2 linked regions of the Homo sapiens genome follow. The protein of the gene in region 1 interacts with the protein of each later gene in a pairwise test. Each region holds a gene or a part of one and is shown on either strand. Other genes may lie near its edges.

What was found. Proteins that work in one complex are often made in the same cells at the same time.
Region 2: the proteins of KLKB1 (region 1) and SNX12 interact in binary tests that used the Homo sapiens proteins (3 or more experiments, as listed by UniProt).

What each region holds. Positions count from the first base shown.
Region 1 is NC_000004.12:186,230,487-186,237,518, reverse strand, and holds part of KLKB1 (plasma kallikrein isoform 1 preproprotein), read right to left. Parts: intron 5,393-7,032; coding exon 5,230-5,392; intron 3,568-5,229; coding exon 3,461-3,567; intron 739-3,460; coding exon 579-738; intron 1-578. UniProt on the Homo sapiens protein: Participates in the surface-dependent activation of blood coagulation. Activates, in a reciprocal reaction, coagulation factor XII/F12 after binding to negatively charged surfaces.
Region 2 is NC_000023.11:71,058,747-71,065,366, forward strand, and holds the end of SNX12 (sorting nexin-12), read right to left. Parts: intron 5,966-6,620; exon of another isoform or gene 5,842-5,965; coding exon of another isoform or gene 5,839-5,841; intron 4,204-5,838; coding exon 4,108-4,203; intron 3,222-4,107; coding exon 3,097-3,221; intron 2,373-3,096; coding exon 2,270-2,372; 3' UTR 501-2,269; downstream 1-500. UniProt on the Homo sapiens protein: May be involved in several stages of intracellular trafficking.

The DNA of each region.
Region 1 (7,032 bases):
TCAGCTTTGGAGAAGTAGGGGAAGAGGATGTCAGGCTTTGAAGATGCGGTACAATTACATGCCAGGGGAAAAGAGTAGAGAAACAAATGAAATTAAATGAATTATTTAATTAAAAAATGAAGGGCGAGGCGCAGTGGCTCATGCCTGTAATCCCAGCGCTTTGGGAGGCTGAGGTGGGTGGATCACAAGATCAGGAGTTCGAGACCAGCCTGACCAACATAGTAAAACCCCGACTCTACTAAAAATACAAAAATTAGCCAGGCATGGTGGCGGACGCCTGTAATCCCAGCTACTCGGGAGGCTGAGGCAGGAGAATCGCTTGAACCCGGGAAGCGGAGGTTGTAGTGAGTCGAGATTACGCCACTGCACTCTAGCCTGGGCGACAGAGCGCGACTCCATCTCAATAAATAAATAAATAAATAAAAGATAAAAAAATAAAATAGAGTAAGTAAATGAGGAAAGTGGTTAGAATAAAAGCCCTGTTTGGTTTTTAGTTTGGGAACAAAAGAGGTTAAGAAGAATACAGTGAAATCCTGGAGGCACCAATACAAAGAACACACACCTTGAATTGTACTCACCGGTACTCTGCCTTGTGAAATGTTTGCGTGGCATATGAAAAAAACTGGCAGCGAATGTTACTGGTGCACCTTTTTTGGCATTCTTCAACACTGCTAACCTTAGACACATTAAAATTGACTCCTCTCATATCAACTCCTTTATAAATGTCTCGATGGCAAGCTGTACAAGAAAAATACATAGAGCAAATACAGTCCATTTTCTTTCTAGAGGTAGATTAGATACCCACTACCATTTGGGTTGGTAGTTTAGAATGATAATAGCCCAGTTTTGGCAACTGCTATATTAACTAAGGGATTTAAAATTTTTATTATGTACATAAATTATCGAACTCTGCTTGAAGTAAATACAATCCAATATTTTCCCTAAAGCACTAGCTTTGAAATTGGGTTACTTCACTTCTTAAACTGCAAGATGCATGCAGCAATACAGGTAAATTTCACGTTGAAATTATCAATGAGCAGTGGGAAATAAACAAGGCAATAATAATGAGGACACTGATAATGTGTGCTGAGGTTTGCATTATTAAAGAAACTGATGTGCCTTTGACCTTTCGCATTGAATGAAAGAGCTTCTCTATCTCCCAGTGTTATTTCTTTGCTTTCGACTTCTCCTGTCTGATGACAAATTGCATCCAGATCAATCATTACAAAATGTGGAGAGTTGTTGTTTACGCATGATGAAACCACTTCCATTCTTGCTTTAAAATAGTGTTAACTTCTATTTAAGCACCCTTTTCATTGAGATTTGTCTTACATGCAAAAGATACAGATAATTCTTTTCACAGACAGTGAAGCAAAATTAGGCTCTTTTTTTTTTTTTTTTTTTTGAGACGGAGTCTCGCTCTGTCGCCCAGGCTGGAGCGCAGTGGCGCGATCTCGACTCACTGCAAGCTCCGCCTCCCGGGTTCACGCCATTCTCCTGCCTCAGCCTCCCGAGTAGCTGGGACTACAGGCGCGCGCCACCACGCCCGGCTAATTTTTGTATTTTTAGTAGAGACGGGGTTTCACCGTGTCAGCCAGGATGGTCTCGATCTCCTGACCTCGTGATCCGCCCGTCTCGGCCTCCCAAAGTGCTGGGATTACAGGCGTGAGCCACCGCGCCCGGCCTCTTTTTTTTTTAAAGATTCAAATTTCTTGGTTAGACTTTTGGTTAAGGAAGTAATGTAACCAGAAGTATAAACTGTATACTTTTTTAAAGTTTTATTCCCCAAGATTATGTGGAATAAACCATAATCTACTACAGATACCTTTCCACTCCTAAGAAGTATGGTTGAAGTCATAAAACTAAATTTAAGGGTGGGAAAGACAGAAAATACACAAACTGTCAGGAAAACTATATGACAGTACGATGAGTTGGGCAGGGAGGTGGATTATTCACTGTGGTTCTTAAACACAGGAATTTGCAGACTGTGGAAACGAAGTCTCTTTCCTATTTTTCTGCATGTGAGAAAAGAACAGGCTAAGAGTTGGGATGCGACTCTTACAAATAAAAACTCTTTAAGTGTTCATACGGAAGCTCTAAATGCTTTTGACTAGAATTGTTCTTGAGTGTAGAGATTTTATGTACTTGGGAACAATTTTTCACTTTAAAAAACATTAAAAGCAAGCTAAGTGAGTAACAGTGAGTTTTAGAATACATGAACAATAACAGGAATATTGAGAAAGGCACAAATTACTTTTTCTTTAAATTTTGCTACAAGATACAACAATCAGAAATAGCACTTACTCGAATAATTTATACCAAATTGGATTAACATAAAAATTGATCTTTTAAAATAGGAAATGTACTCCACCTCACGTAGACTACACCTATTATACTGGCTAAGTCAGGCCCACATTTATAATGAAGGCATTGCCATCCTTTGATAACTGGTTAAAATGCAAACAGCAGGCTCAAAGTGTGTACGTATTGAAGAGGTGATATCAATGAGGGAGGAAAGGATGACAAATTTAAAAACATCTGAAATTTGAACCTACAAAATTAATTGTGCATAATGAAAATAAAATAGTAATGATATATAGTCATACATAGAATAACAGCAGTTATTTTAAGATTCTGACAACCCATCAGTTGAATCTTTTCAGCACTTTTCACTTTCTTATCAGTCCCAGTCATGTTTGAGAAATAGTTCATTTGTCTTAAATTTATTAGGATAGCATTGGAAACTGTTTCCCAAGACATCAGTAGCTTCAGATGTCAGAATCAAAGTTCTCTAGCATCCTAGTCCTCAAGTTTCCTTTAGGAAGTATTATTCTTAGCAAGATTTGCAGAACTCAGTTCTTCAATTTGGGCCTAGTGGTATATCACAGAGTTTCTTGATGTCAGCACTGTTGACGTTTTGGGCCAGAAAATTATTTGCTGTGGACGACTGCCCTGTGCCTTGTAGAATGTTGGTCAGCATTCAAACATTCTGGCCTCTACTTAGTAAATGCTAATAGCATCCTCCCTAGTTGTAGCCACCAAAAATGTCTCCAGACATTGTCAAATGTCCCCAGTGGAAGAGACAAAATCACTGCTGGTTGAGAATCACTGATGTAAAAATTACCCTCAAGTGAACTTGAGAGAGATGTTCCCTTGTGTTTTCTTAAAAATTCTTATCTGGAAACGAGACACAATTATTTGGATTCATTTTCTGCAAATCTTACACTTGAGCGCTAACCTCATAAATAATAGAGGCTCATTAAGTATGTGTTGATTTATAAAGACAATAGAAGTGTCCAGATGAATATGGGTCCCTCTTTTGTGTCCAGAATACTGCCCCATCTCCTATCTTTATGAGTGATGCCTTCCAAAAAGCTGTAGCAGTACAAACTTTGAGCAAAAGCTGTTCTAAGCGAGATCCAATATTAACTCAAATGTAGCTAAGAAATTCACAACTTACCACTTATTTGATGACCACATTGCTTCAAGGAATGTCCAGAAACTGCACCTGTTCGATGTACTTTTGGCAGGGTTCCTGTAACACTATCTTTCAAGAAGCAACCAAACCTATTTTAAAAGTAGCTTTACTTAGGAAGTAGAATAATAAACATACATTGAGGAAATGTCTAGCATTTTCTACACACTAACAAATAAAACCAGGAATAAGGAAAATAATATAGCTTCCCCAATACTTGCTGGAAAGAACACTCTTAGAGCTAATTTTATAACACCCCATAATATCTAACTCCATCACTGCGTTTTCTTTACACTCACATTTTTTAAGTACAGGAAATCAACCATATTAAAGAGTTAATGATTTTTCCTGTGTTCTTAAACTTTCAGGCAACTATGTTCTCAATTGGTAATTATTTTTGCAAATACTTTCATTTACTTAAAAAGTTAACTTAGTGATAAGAGCTGGATTTGTATATCGTGTTCATCTTGCTTATTAACTCCTTGTAGTCTGCACTTAATGGAAGACTTCCCTCTGTCTTAGATGTCCACCTTCATGTTAATTTCATTATTTATAAGAATTCTAGAACCTTCCTCCACTTTTAATATGATGATCCTCACATACAATCTGAGTTTTCTCTACAAGTTTAACATGTGGGATCAGAGAATGACTATCCAATTTCTAGTTGGTAAACTCACATAGAGTGAAGATGAGTAAAGAGTTATGAACATGGAAATGGGAACAACAAAGAAAAGCTTACTCTGGATATTAATCAAAAGGAAAAATCATTAAGATGAAACTGTGGCTCGTGATTAATAAGCATCTCTCTGACCTAATAAAAATTGTAATTACCGCTGGGTGCGGTGGCTCATGCCTGTAATCCCAGCACATTAGGAGGTAGAGGCAGGTGGATCACGAGGTCAGGAGTTCAAGGCCAGCCTGGCCAATGTGGTGAAACCCCGTCTCTACTAAAACTACAAAAATTAGCTGGACGTGGTGGTGCGTGCCTGTAATCCCAGCTACTTGGGAGGCTGAGGCAGGAGAATCGCTTGAACCTGGGAGGTGGAAGTTGCAGTGAGCCGAGATCACGCCACTGCACTCCAGCCTGGGCTACAAAGCGAGACTCCATCACACACACACACAAAATCGTAAGTACTATTTTTCCAATACTTTTACAAATTTCCAGTTAATAATACATATTCACACAAGCACAAGCACACATACACACACACACCATACATAGCATCATGCCACAGGTGCCCAAACTGGCTCACTATAGGCCCCATTTAGAACTGCCCTGTCCCAAAATCACAAGTTCTAGATCTTTCTCAATTACATTCTCAGCAAAATGCTTGTCTTATGTTATTTTCTTTGGACTGTGCTATCCGCTAATGTGATCATGGGTCACACAGTTAAATCTGTTTCTTTATTCAGATGAAATGTGCACCTGTTAGACTCTTTCTTGAGACAATCCCTTAGCCCAATGATATTCAAGCATTTTGAGGCTTTGAATAGAAAATGACTAGCTTCTACTACTTTAAAGAAACACAGTGATTGTTTAAAATGCAGATTCCTGGTCACAAGAAACTTTGGTTCAGCAGATCTGGGTTGTGGCCTAGGAATCTGCATTTGTAAGAACCACTTGACGGGATTTTGCTGAAGCTGGTCCTTGAACCCCGTGTGAGGAAGAACTCTCAGTTATACTACACCTTTCTGCACAAAACTGATTCAGTTTTGAAAAACAGCTTCTCCAATAATGAAATACCAACTTTTACCTTTTCTCCATGTCATTGATTGAACTTGCTGGAAGAAAACTGAATAGCAAACACCTTGGGTGGAATGTGCACCTCATCTGGCAGTATTGGGCATTTGGGGTGTACATGGAAGCTACATCCCCACCTCTGAAGAAGGCGTTTTCATAGAGTTGAGTCAGACATCCTGTGACAGAACCATAAAAATTAATTTGCGATAATTCATATAATAATTTTAATAAAAAGATATCTGTTGTCTTAACTTCTCCCACTGACTGACTACTCAAAGACCTGTATAATACAACTCTAATTATGCTGAGAAAATAAAATATATTAAGGCAACTATTTGAACAATGTATAGTGTTATTTAATTTTCTGGGTACTTCTGTATAAAACATTGGCTTATTTTCATTAAATTGCACAATAATTTGCACATAAATTCCCCACAATAAAATAAAATCCTAACTTAGTTTTTTCCTGTTGCCTGACATGCTATGAAAACATCATGCCTTAAAAAGAATAATATTTGCTCTATTTTCAAAACACTTTTGTAACAAACATCTCCACCAGCTTCTCACAATTCTGTAAGGGAAATTAGAGGCAGGCTTTGTTATCTGCATCTGGACTATGTTTTTTAAAAGAAAGTTAAATAACTGAGTCTCAGGGCACACAGACTTGCCCAAGATCCACACAGTTAGTGAAAGTCCTGTGACGGTCACCCAGCCCTGACTCCCAATCCTGTGTCCTTTTCTAGCATGCAATGCTAAACATTGTTCCTCATCTCAGTATGATTGAAACAAACTGACAGTATTTTTTACTCATTTTTAAGACAGTTTAAGCAAATGCATGCATATGCTAAATTGAAAATAAATTTTGAACTATTTGCTGTTTGGAATTATTCCCAGCTCTAAAATATACTGCACCCCACATATTATTAGAGAATTCGGTGTCTTTACTGGCTTTAATTTGTAAATTTGGATTTACCGGGAAAGACTGTCTTTGAAATCTGGTTAATAAGCTTTCCTGTTCAGGTAGCACATTCATTTCAGTTGTCAACTGGGACCATTAACCATGGCTATTCCAATGACAACCTGTCCATTCCCTGGGGCAGTAGTTACTCTTCAATTTAAATAGTACCTATTTTTTATTGCCTTTGAGGGAGTGGGCAGCTTAGACCACGTGCATTTTATTAAGCACTGGAGAGTGCCATCTTCTCTGCACTATCCTACCCCCTGGGGATTTGGCCCTGAGCCCCATTATGACCACCCAACCCAACAAGACTGCCTCTCTCCCTCTCTGAGGTGTGGCCAAGATGACCACCTCTCGGGTAAGGTTTATATTTGGAAAGAGCACAGATCTCTTCAAGTGGAAGCTTTTGGGAATACAAGTGTATTGCCTAGATTTCATGTATGCACAAAACATGGAGGAGTTGGTTTAGTGACAATACTAGTTACAAAAAGGCCTATTTTTTTCAGACAGTTGGTGGTTTTGACTGACTCATAATTATCAAGCAGTCACTCCTCTTCCAGCCCCCAGTTCCCATGCAAGGATGCATACAATGGCAGGTCCTGGCCCAGAGCTTCTCATTCTGCAACTGAGCCTCTGTGAACTGCTATGTGACAGTCAGGGAAGGGAGTGACTAGAAAGACACCAATTTTGTTGCTGAATGGAAAGAAACTTCTAGTAGGTGTTCTTGCTTATCCTCATAAGTTGGTGATCATGATGATAATGATGACCATGACAATGATAGCTGTGTCTGTGCTGTATTTTGGAGCCTATGTAAAGTACTATTATATAATTTATCTCATAATGATGGTGGCTTTCAAA
Region 2 (6,620 bases), on another chromosome or scaffold:
TCTGCCTGTGTCAAATTTATTTGGGAAAAAAAACAGTGTCAGTTGAGATAAAAAGCCTATAGAAGAAATGTTTGTTGGTGTTGTGTGGGTGTGTCAGAGGATGAACACATGCATGTGTGTTTATGTACATGTATTACATATGCAGACACACACATACACACATACACACACACATATATAATAAATATATTCTGCCCAAATTAGCACAAACCCACAAGCTTAAAAACCAAATCTGCTAAATCTGACTCAAACAACAGGTACTGAGCCTACAGCTACTTCCTGCAAGCAGATGCATTACCTCTGTGACAAAGTCAGTTGTGAGTTGCAAAAAGGATAGGTAAATATCATTAAGATAAGTTAAGATTCTGCTTTCTAAAAAAATTTAAATGCAAAACATTACCTCAGGACACTGGCCACACTGTATGATTTCTGCATAATACCCAGCATATCCTAGACACTAAAGAATACTAAATTTACAACTTAAGCAGGAAAACAGAGGCTTGCTTCACAGTGGTTTAATATGAACAGAGTTGAATATGACATTGTCTGACAGAAGAATGAACAGTTTGCTGAATAAAAGCCCCGAGTCAGGATATATATACACAGCAGAAATGGGGCCTCAGACTCTCAGCACTTGTGCACAATGAAAGAGGAAATCGTTTTTAAAAAATGTCTATAACAGAGGATACAAATCAAAAAGGCAGCAACAACAACATTGGCGAGGTGGGAAAGGGAGCAGAGCCTCTCATTAGGGGCTGCTTAGCCCCTGGCGCAGGCTCAGCAGCTGGAGAGCTGTCTCAGGGAACTTCAACATTTAGATGGGTTCCAAATCCTATGTCAAAATACAATCCTAATCTCTCTGATCAGGGTCAGTCAGAATCAGCAATCCTTTTCCACAGTGCCCTGCATAGAAAACTCCAATCTTTCCATGATAGGGAGTCTAAGCAAAGAGCCCCCACCTCTCACCTGGCACCAAAGTTAACTTACTCTCACCCCACCACTTGGGACAGACGTTGGGCCCCAGCAAACAAACCACCCCCTCCAAGACAGAAACCAGGATAGTTGCCAGCCTCAAGAAGCTGCTTCAAATGTTAAGATTTAGGAAATCCATACCAAGCTGCTATCCATAGTTCAACTTCTGGGGAAAATGCTGGAGTTGCATGAGAAACAAGTGCAGGCAGTTCAATAACCCTGTGACCACGCTGGGGAGGGCAGCAAAAACTCTTGCCCCTGAGCCCCATTCAACAACTCAAAGTGCTTAGGAGAAGTCAGAGACTGTGTGGTTGGTTTGTGTGCTTCTGCCCTGTGGCAGCACTAAATGGGATGGGGGAAAGGAGAATGGAAGGAAGACAGTGTTGATGCCCTTCCCTACCGCGGGTAAGAGCCTAGAAGATAATCCACTCCCACCCTTCAGGGAGTTACCTGGCAGTGGTGAGTTGCCCCCACCCCTCAAGCCACCAAACCTGCAAAGCTAACCCATAAAGTAGCAAGGGCTTAGGGAGGGAGAACTGCTGGCCCATACTGACTCACCAGCTGATGAGCAAAAATAGGCAGCTAGAGTGGGAGCCACAAAGGGAGAGGGGCTAGGCAATAGGAGCTCCCCTACTGCCCTATGGCTTTCTTCTGACTCTGAAGCAGCCATAATGATGGGCCCAGAAAACCCACACACCCTGCTCCATACAACAGACTGCTTGGACTCTAGGAGGATTACTGCCATGGAAAGCAACAAGGGAGAGAGAAAGCAACAAAAGAAACTGTTAAGAAAACTGGGAGCAGGCCTGAAGAAAACAAGGAAAGCTTCTGAGTCTCTACCACCTTTCCAAAAAGGAAAAAATACATGCAGTTAGGAAAGGCAGGGTTTTTCCCTGCTCAGTGTTCTTGGTTAAACCTAAGAGTAAGAAAAATCCCCTGAACTTGCAGCATCAGTATGTATCCAAGTGCCTCACCAGCACAAGCGCCCCCCTCCCCCCAGGTTAGCCTTCTGGCATGGGTAAATGCCCAAGAAATTGCCTTCCAGTCTAATCCCCCCACCCACCCACCCCAACCCCAAGCAAAGGGCATCTGCCTGTGGGTTCCCACCTCTCCTCAGAGAAGAGGATCCTAGCAGAGTGCCCACATGGTGTAGTCAGGTACCAGGGAGCACAATGCCAGACAGTCTATCAGGCCAGGAGATGGGCAGCCAACTTCAGATCAAAGACAGAGAGAGGCTTAGTGTAAAAACCAATGTCATTTCAGCAGGAAAGTAGAGGGCAGGTGGTGAGAGGGGCTCCTACTGGCGCACCTTCCCCGGGACGTAGTTCCTGTCAATTGCCTCCTCTTGCAGGAACATGTGTAGGCAGCGTTCATTCTGAGCCAGTGGGTGCCCAGCAATTCTATAAAGAAACCAGGATGGTTATCAGTAGTATTCAGAATCAGAGAGAATTAGCAGAGGGATGGGGATGTGGACAGGGGAAGAAGGGCAAGGTCAGCCCTGAGGTTCAAGCCAGTAGAGGACAGCAGTAGGGTACCACCTCAACCCTAATATTGTAAAGGGGACGGGGGATAGAGGGGCAAGACAGGGAAATCCCTAGATATAACCAACATGCAGTGCTTTCTCAGGCCCTGACACACAGGATCAGAATCCTACTCAAAGGAATGGAGTTTTACTGTCCAGTCAGCCCACCACACAATTGGCACCACATCATGGTACCCATTATAAAAGGTGAGCTGGGTGCGGTGGCTCACGCCTGTAATCCCAACACTTTGGGAGGCCAAGGCAGGTGGATCACTTAAGGTCAGGAGTTCGAGACCAGTCTGGCCAACATGGTGAAACCCCATCGCTACTAAAAACATGAAAATTAGCTGGGCATGGTGGCCGGCGCCTGTAATCCCTGTTACTCAGGAGGCTGAGGCAGGAGAATCACTTGAACCCAGGAGACGGAGGTTGCAGTGAGCCGAGATCACACCATTGCACTCCAGCCTAGGTGACAGAGTGAGACTCTGTCTCAAATAAATAAATAAGTAAATAAAAATAAAATAAAAGGTGAGGTAAACAAAACATATAGAAAGACTACGATGGCAAAAGTAGCAAGTGGAGCCCCCAGGAACTTGGCTTACTTGTTAATAAACTGCTCGAGGCCCTGCCTCCTTTCTTCGATGAAAGACTCCTCAAAGATCCCTTCATCTCCTCGGAAAGGGAGCTGCCGCTTCAAGGCTTTCCCAGGCAGTGGTGGTACTACAATCTGCAGGCACACACAAAATTCCAGCCACATGGGAGAGAGACAGAGTGGGAATGAGATGGTAAAGCACCGTGTACCTCATTTCTTATTAGGCATAGGGTCCATCCTGTCCCACAGCCAGCAACTTGCAAGAACTAAGACCATAAGAACAGTCAGGATGGCTCAGGTCAAAAATTAATCCGTTTCTGTGGGAAGACAGGTTTACCACCTCAAAAGAAGGAAATAAACTCCAAATAATCCTCACTTTCCTTAACAAGCCACTACCATTCAAGAATTTAGCTAGGATTTTCCTGACACTAGACTTTCCATTTTTAGCACCTACAGGAATTAAGTTGTACAACTTTACTAGCGACTAAGTGAAGTAATACTTTAAAAAAAAAACTTGTCCTGAACTTACCACTTTCTTTTTTTTTTTTTTTTTTTTTTGAGACAGAGTCTTGCTCTGTCATCCAGGCTGGAGTGCAGTGGCACGATCTCAGCTAACTGCAACCTCTGCCTCCCAGGTTCAAGCAATTCCCATGCCTCAGCCTCCCAAGTAGCTGGGATTACAGGCATCCACCACCACACCTGGCTGATTCTTGTATTTTTAGTACAGGCGGGGTTTCACCATGTTGGCCAGGCTGGTCTTGAACTCCTGACATCAGGTGATCCGCCCGCCTCAGCCTCCCAAAGTGCTGGGATTACAGGCGTGAGCCACTGTGCCCAGCCAGAACTTACCACTTTCAAGTTTCAAAAGGTATCCCCCCGATCTAAAATACTGAGATTTGATGGATAAGAATGTGTTCACCCTCTTCATTCCCTTCAAGACTTTATAGACTGTGGTTGTATGCCCACTCAGCCTATGCAGAGCTCCTCCTCCAAAGATGCCACACAGAGAACAAAGCCATACCTTGCTATCTCTCTCCAGCTCATTTTTCAGCCACTCAAAGTCACTGTAGCGCCGCCGTACGCAGGACTCCTTTAGCTTGAAGATAGGTAGGTTTGTCTACATGGAAGGAAAAATTAAAGAAGAAAGATGGTAATGTTCAGCCTGTGGTAGCCACCTGTCTGAGTAACTTGGACAGGTCCCAATGAAGAAATAGCTCCTATGGATCATGCTCCTATAACCCCTTCAAATCACCACCAGGTAAAAACCAACCCTTACCACATCCAACCTTATCATAGCTGATGATCAGAAGTCCCTTGCTGCTTTGAATTTATCCTACAAGTAGACTTGCAGTAGTATGTAAATATGTACATATAAGAGTTTTCACCAGGCTTGGTGGCTCACGCCTGTAATCCCAGCACTTTTGGAGGCCAAGGCAGGCAGATCACTTGAGGTCAAGAGTTCAAGACCAGCCTGGCCAACATGGTGAAACCCTGTCTCTACTAAAAATACAAAAATTAGCCAGGTGTGGCGGCACACACTTGTAATCTCAGCAACTTGTGAGGCTGAGGCAAAAGGATCACTTGAATCCAGGAGGCGGAGGTTGCAGTGAGCCAAGATCACACCACTGCACTCCATCCTGAGAGACAGAGTGAGATTCTGTCTCAAAAAAAAAAAAAAGAGTTTCACTGCATTTTATTATTTATAATAATAATAAATGTCTATGAATAGACAATAGGTTACAATGAATTATGGTATACCTGTATAGTAGAATATTAAATAACTATGAAAAGAATGTGAAAGCCAGGTGCAGTGGCTCACACCTATAATCCCAGCACTTTGGGATGCCGAGGCAAGGGATCACCTGAGCCCAGGAGTTTGAGAGCAGCCTGGGCAACCATAGCAAGATTCCATCTCTACAAAAAGTAAAAAAGCCAGGTGTAGTGGCAGTGCTCGCTTGTGGTCCCAGCTACTCAGGAGGATCACCTGAGCCCAGGAGGTCAAGGCTATGGTGAACTGTGATTATGCTACTGTAATCTGGCACAGAGACTCTGTCTCTCGAAATAAAAATGAAAGATCTCTATGTGCCAGTATGGAAAGATATTAAGTAGTAAAATCAAGGTATAGAACAGTATATATATATAGCTTGCCTCTATTTGTGTTTTAAAAAGGGATGTATATGTATATATTTATACTGATTAATAAAGTATTTATGAAAATATACTGGTAATGGTGATTGACTTTCGAGAGTAAGAGAAGACAACTGGAATGGGTGGAATAGTCACATTTTTCATTGTACAATTTGAATTTATCATGTGTACATATTACATTTTCCTTTAAAAAGTGAATTTAAATTCCCTGTAAAGAGATAAACACATCCAAGGTATGCCTACCTCTGCTCTTCCTGTCCAAATCCTCTCCATTCTACCAGTGCTCACTCAACTCTCACTTCAAACAAAAAAATTTTCTGACAACAACAACTGGATTTATTGGTTTTCCTCCTCTCTGAACTCTTCTGACAGTTATACTTTAGCATTGCCTGATACACTATTGTTTTATGCATCATGTTTGCCTTGTCTAACTAACTAATCTCATTAAGATCAGAAACTATGACTACTTCTGCATCTTCTAAAATGCAGAATATGCAAGTTACTCAATAAATGCTCAATTGATTAATAGAGACTCTATGTGTCTGTTTATCCTCTCCTCATCTAGAAAATGCATAAGAAATCACCATTACAAAAGTTGGCTTACCATAGCTTGCTCCCTGATATAAATCAGCTCATTCCCACATTTTAAACACTGAGAAGATTCCCAAGGCTCTAGTGGCAACACGAATCCCCTGACAGAAAACCCTGATCTTCACTCCTGTCTACAAGTTCTAAATAGAAATGGCCAACCACATGTATTAATACTGACCATATTTACTGCCAGTCAATTCAGGTGAGAGGATGAATAAAATAAACTAGTTATCTCCTTTCTCCACAACTGCCTCTTGGCAGGAAAAGAGCAACTCGAAACTCCATTAGAGCTTCACACAGAACCCACTACATCATGCTTTGTACTCCTTGACACTGGAAATTGTCTTTTCAGGATCCAGTTCTCAAATAGGCCATCAAAAGCCAAATAACTGGCCAATTGTACATTAAACTCCATCCAGGATCGTCAAGGTCCAAGGAATGTCAATAGGTTGAAATGGAGTGAGATTCATATAAAGTAAGATTACTAAACCATTATTTATTTAAAAGAATAAATAAGGGCTGGATGCGGTGGCTCACGCCTGTAATCCCAGCACTTTGGGAGGCGAGGCAGGCAGATCACTTGAGGTCAGGAGTTCGAGACCAGCCTGGCCAACATGGTGAAACCCTGTCTCTACTAAAAACACAAAAATTAGCCAGGTGCTTGTAATCCCAACTACTCAGGAAGGTGAGGCAGGAGAATCGCTTGAACCCAGGAGGCGGAGGCTGCAGTGAGCCGAGATCATGCCACTGCCCTCCAGCCTGGGTGACAGAGCAAGACTTTGTCTCAAAAAAAAA